Regions from separate parts of the Homo sapiens genome. Here region 1 is linked to region 2. The links come from fine-mapping of genetic effects on gene expression. A gene starts in region 2. The other region holds a variant in brackets. All regions are shown on one strand. Distances are from middle to middle.

Region 1 (2,852 bases), 54 kb before region 2:
CGGGTGCAGGGCTGGCCAGGCACTGGGGTGGGCACCCTTAAGGGGCTTGCAGAAAAGATTTTGGGTGGGCAGGTGAGACCTAGAAAACCCAGGGCAAGACACTGGGTGCTTAAACAGAGAATCTTCCAGGAGCACAGTGGCCCGCCCTGGCCATGGGATGAGTTTTTAATGTGAGGCAAAATCAGTCCACAATACAAAATCTAAAAATCACACCCACTTTTCCCACCTGGCTCCCGGGGAGGGGGGAAGCTGGGGGTTTCTTTTGCCTGCAGGGTGTGGGGAGGAGCAGAGGAGGGCCAAGAAAGGGAGAAGGAAACAGAGGCCACAGAGGCCTGGCTGGAGGTATCCTGCTGCCCCCTGCCCTGTCCTGGAGCTGCCCTTGGCCTCCTGTGCCCTCTACCGGTGCACGCCTGTGTGGGCCCAGCCCCCATCTGTCTGGTCTGGCCCTGAGAGGCTCGGGCACCAGCTGCATCATTTCTCTTTCTTCTCCAGCCCCTTCGATGCTGATGCCTCTGTTCCCTCTTTGGATTCTGTCACTGCCGCTGGATCCTTAGGATTTGACTCCTCATAACTGACCAAAAAAAAAAAAACAACAATAAAAATTCATTTAGAGGAGAGGGTGAGCAGAACCTTGGTTGTCCCCTTCCCCCACCCCCATCCTAGGAAAGCGCCTGGTCACATGCAGAGCGTCAGCCCTGTGTCCACTGCCCAGCACCTAACAGCGCCTGGCCCCAGCCCTACCACATGCCCTCCTCAGGCAGGCTGCTCTGCTTTCTCTGAGCCTGGGGGTACCAGGAGGCAGCAAGGGCAGCAGCCAATGGAAGAGAGGTTGGGCCTGGGCTTGTGTGGGCTGATTTCAAGCTTCCTGAACCTTCTGCTGTAGCGTGGAAAAAGGGGTGGCCATGACAAGGCTACAAGAGATGGAGATAGGCTGCCTCCCAGGGCACACAGCATGAATCAAACAGCTCAGCCCCAGAGGTGAGGGCACTGCTGTACTGGCAAGCGGCAAGGTGCTGCTCTGAAGACAGACACCCTGGCTTAGCTTCTTCTATGGGCTTCATTTTTCAAGCAACTGAGTTCATGCCAAAGATAATACAAATCTTTCCTCACCAGAT[A/C]AACCCCGTGAGGCAGGAATGTGCCCACTTACAGATGAAGAAAGTAACTTGCCTAAGGTTATACATATACCTTGAATGGTAACAGTATCTACTACTGCATGACAAGGGCCATTTCCATCCACTATGATGTGGGCCCCGCATTACTGGTGAGGGCAGGAAGCTTCGGGGTTGTCCTGCTTCCCAGCCCTATGGCTCGGTGCAACCACTGCCTGGTGGTTGTGGAGGAGCTGCTCTTGCGGCCTACTCCTGGCAATGGTCCCTGCCCTATGCACTGGAGCTGCAGTGTCTGCCCTACCTTGGGCCCCGGGGCAGTAGGGGGAAGCGGGCAGGTGGGCACCCGCTGGGCATTACATGGCGCTGGGATTCTGCGGGCGCCGGCGGCGAGGGCCAGCTAGCTTCTGCTGCATGGAGTCGGCCAGGCTGGCTGGGGAGCCCGAGACTGTGGGGAAGTGGGTGAGCCTCGGGGTATGAGGCAGGATTTCCGCCGAGGACTCGTAGCTGTGTGAGAGAGAGAGAAGAGACAGAAAAAAAGAGATGGATAGGGAAAGACTAAGGGAGGACAGAGACTTCCTTTCCAAGGAGCAGAGAGCAGAACTGTCTTGTTTTTACCTATTTTTGCACTTCCAGATTTTATGGAAAGAAGCTGATATTATTTGGAGAATGAAAAAAGAAAGATGCACCTAGACAAAGGCACATCAGGCCACTGTGCAGAAGAACAAGCATGCTCTAGAAGTGTATGTGCTGCTGTGGAAACACCTCTAAGAAATACCGTAGAAACCCAATGTGCAGAATGCTCCAAGAATGCCACCGTCTGTGCAAGAAAAAGTATACACACATCAGTGCACAGGTGTCTGAATGTCTGTGTAACACTGCTGGCCTCTGTGGGGTAGCTGGAGCATGAGGGTGCTCTCTCTGTTACAGCTTTGGAATTTTTAACTATGTGAATGTGGTACCAATATAAAAATAAGTAAATCAATAAAAAAAGGAGGAGAATAGAAGGGAAAAGTAAAAAGGTGGAGAATTGGGAGAGAAATGGGGAGAAAGGAGGGAGAGAGAGAGAGAGAGAGATCACTTGCTTTTTACCCCAATCTAAGAATGTCCAGGGTGGGAGTGGAGGGCAAACAGTGGGGGCAGGGTACCTGTATGGCAGAGCATTTAGCACCAAGCAGGTAAAGGCCAGGGGCACCCTCTGCCTTGTGTATTCAGAGCTTTGCCTGATGAGGGCACAATAGCATTGGGTGGTTACCCCAAGGGGAGGGGCAGGGAAACCTGGGCTGGATGGGAAGCAGAGGGAGGGTGAAGGATGGGTGCTAAGCTCAGGGATCGGGTGCCATGCCTGCTCCCAAAGCTCCCTGAGACCTGTCCCCAAGTTCACCCCTAGCCCCCACTTGCCTCAGACCACAGAGCTTTGCTGGGCGAGGCAATGTGGGCAGGCAGGCGGGGGGCTGGGGATTCTAGACAGGACAGGGAGGGCAGAGGCAGGTCCGGGGGAGGGGTGAGTCACAGGCTCCCCTGCGGGGAGCCAGGTGCACAGGAGGCCCTGGCAAGCGCTCTAGGGACAGCTTGGAGGCCAGGCAGGTGGAACTGGGCGGAAGGCACCCGAGTAGGCAGCTTTAATCGCAACTGACAGCTATTTCTAGGTCCCTGGCAGGCAGGGTCGGCAGTGCTGGGGGCAGACACCTGTTGGAGTCACGCAGGCCTTGCGGTATGGGTGGGGCTGTGTGCAGGGTGTGGTAG
Region 2 (2,902 bases):
AAGTCATTGGTACAACGGGCTAGAAAGGGCTTAATATAGGGAAGAAGTGGGGCAGGGAAGGGGGAGGGAGAAGCAGAAGGTGAAATGTGCTGGAGTCCTCCTAGTTATCCAATAGGACAGATGTTGAGGAAGGCCAGGGATGGAGTCTGGCCCAGTCTCACAAGAGGGGCCAACAGTGGCCCAGCAGACAGGCCCAGTTTGGTGGGGGGATTGTCTTGGGGGTATGGGGAGAAGGGCTACTTTGAGATAGGGTCAAAGGCTGGGTGGGAAAAGGGTTACAGGTTAGGAACAAGGTCTAGGTTTTGACTAGGCCATGTCCAAGGTTGGATGGTAGTTAAGAGAGGAAACCAGGAAAATAAGACGTCCATGCCTAGTTGGAAAGTAGAGGCACCAAGATGCCAGCTTCTGAGGAGCCAGCTGACTGGGATGGTTCCAGAAAGTGATGTGAAAAACTGGGCTCTAAGAGATCATTGTTTTTGAGGCAGGGGCAAGGGCCAGGTGTGGGGGATCTAGGTGAGCACATAAGGTGCCATAGATTCCAGTGAGACAGGAGTCAGAGTCTAGGGATGGGTCTGGATGGTAGAAAGGGCCCTGCGGTGGGCTGAGGCAGGGTTCCTAACAGGGAATGACACGAAATTGTACCATTCAGTAAGTTGTGAGGACCAGTATCCATCAGGTATACATGATGGGGCTGATCTGCCTGGGCCCAACAGGCTCAGAACAATCAGTGCCCGAGTCGCAGTGGGGGACGGGCTGACAGCGTTCCCAGCCGCGGCATGATGCACAGGGAGGGAAGTGTCAGGGTCCGGGTCGGGAGCAGAAGCAAGTTCCTATTGGGGAAGGTATCATACCCTGGTCGGGGGTCGGTGCCCAGATCCCGGGGTAGGAAATGCCAGCCCCGGAATGTGGGCCCGAGACAGAGGGAACGGTGGTGATCAGGGCTGGGAAGAGTCAGTGTCCGGGGAGAGGTGTCTGTCCCGCCTAGGAAGGGTCCATGTCGGCCGTGTTCGGTATGGGGGTGGAAAGTGCCCGGTTTTCCCGCTGACCCTACCTTGCCGCGGGCGCAGCGTACGGAGCGCAGGGCGCCGAAGAAGATGGGCAGCAGCGCCATGAGCAGGAGGCTGCCGTAGGCCAGCGCGATGCCCTCGGGCGTGGAAGGCGGCCGCGTAGTGCTGTTGGTGGGGCCGCCTGCCTCGGCACTGCCGTTATGCGGATCGCTGAGGGCCGAGTCCATGGCGAGGGTGCGTTCGGGATCCGACTCCAGCTCCGGTTGCTGCAGCAGGGACGCAGGCGGAGACACCGGCTCTGCAGGGAAAGCCACGTTCCCCTAAGGCAACAGGAAGTGACGTGCTCCCTCCCAAGCCCGCGCCGCGCACGCGCGCACACACGCTTGCACGCACGCGCGCGCGCGTGCACGTCTCCCCGCCCGCTCGCCCTCTAGCGGTGGCCGAGGGCCGGGCGGCGGGTTGCTAAGCAACTTGTTAGCGGTCCGGACAGGGGCTCTGGGCCACTGCGGTGGGCATGCGACCCGAATGCCCATTTCCCAGTCCCAGCCGGTCTCCTCAATCCCCTGCTGTCCACTCTCCGCAAATCCTCATATTCCGAATAACTAAGAATGTGTTTATTCATACATGCATTTATTGGGTATCCAATTGTTTATTCACTCCTTAAATATTTATTGAATGTCCCTCAATATGCCAACAACTGACCTAGGCTCTGGGGACACTGAGGTGAACAATACAGGCAAAAGTTCCTCCTTGCCTTCGTGAAGTTTGCATTTTAGTGCAGTGTGTGTGGGGGGACGTTGGGAAGACAATAAAGAAACTGAACAAAATAAAAGTCTGTAAAATGGGCTGGGCGCAGTGGCTCACGCCTGTAATCCCAGCACTCTAGGAGGCCGAGGCGGGTGGATCACCTGACGTCACGAGTTCGAGACCAGCCTGACCAATATGGTGAAACCCCGTCTGCACTAAAAATACAAACAATTAGCCGGGCGTGGTGGCACGCACCTGTAATCCCAGCTACTCGGGAGGCTGAGGCAGGAGAATCGCCTGAACCCGGGAGGCGGAGGTTGCAGTGAGCCAAGACTGAGCCATTGCACTCCAGCCTGGGCAACAAGAGCGAAACTCCGTCTGAAAAAAAAAAAAAAAAAAAAAAAAAAAAAGGCCAGGCGCGGTGGCTCACGCCTGTAATCCCAGCACTTTGGGAGGCCGAGGTGGGCAGATTGCGAGGTCAGGAGATCGAGACCATCCTGGCTAACACGGTGAAACCCCGTCTGTACTAAAAATATAAAAAATTAGCCGGGCGTGGTGGCGGGCGCCTACAATCCCAGCTACTTGGGAGGCTGAGGCAGGAGACTGGCTTGAACCTGGGAGGCGGAGGTTGCAGTGAGCCCACTGCACTCCAGCCTGGGCGACAGAGTGAGACTCTGTCTCAAAAAAAAAAAAAAAAAAAACAAGAAAAATTTGTAATTTGTAAAACGTTAATGTATAGTTATGTGTTACATAGCATGTTAATGCAGATAAATAGAGAAAAATAAAGCAAAAGAAAGTAAGGTGTGTGTGGAGTTTGCAAATGTATTGAGAGCCTACTATGTGCCAGGCAATTATAATACCTTACGAGTTCATGCCCCTGTACAATTTATAAAGCTTTGTGGCTCTTTTCAGAATTTGAAGAATCTGTTTATTTATGTGATTCTTATTTTTGATATTGTTAAAAAAGTTAAAAATATATATTTTCTTAGACATGGGGTTTTGCCATGTTGGCCAGGCTGGTCTCAAACTCCTAGGTTCAAGTGATCCTCCTGCCTCAGCCTCCTAAAGTGTTGGGATTACAGGTATGAGCCACTGCTTGCAGCCTACTGTGGCTATATTAGATACTGGAACATCTAAGCATCACTGTG

What was found.
Region 1: its variant is fine-mapped to the expression of HM13 in whole blood (INTERVAL, PIP 0.99).

What each region holds. Positions count from the first base shown.
Region 1 is chr20:31,566,839-31,569,690 of GRCh38, reverse strand. HM13 (histocompatibility minor 13) reads right to left here. Exons shown (of 13, transcript NM_178581.3): 12 at 1,467-1,613; 13 at 148-571. The coding sequence ends at 472. HM13-AS1 (HM13 antisense RNA 1) reads left to right here. Exons shown (of 3, transcript NR_046853.2): 3 at 1,743-2,104. Among named protein-coding and RNA genes, the nearest start is that of HM13-AS1, 5.0 kb to the left of the region's middle. RefSeq lists a silencer at 1-85 and enhancers at 2,739-2,852, 2,152-2,852. The variant A/C (reference allele first, on the strand shown) is at 1,116.
Region 2 is chr20:31,512,884-31,515,785 of GRCh38, reverse strand. It overlaps HM13 (histocompatibility minor 13), which reads right to left and starts at 1,344. Exons shown (of 13, transcript NM_178581.3): 1 at 1,052-1,344. The coding sequence starts at 1,234. RefSeq lists a silencer at 678-747.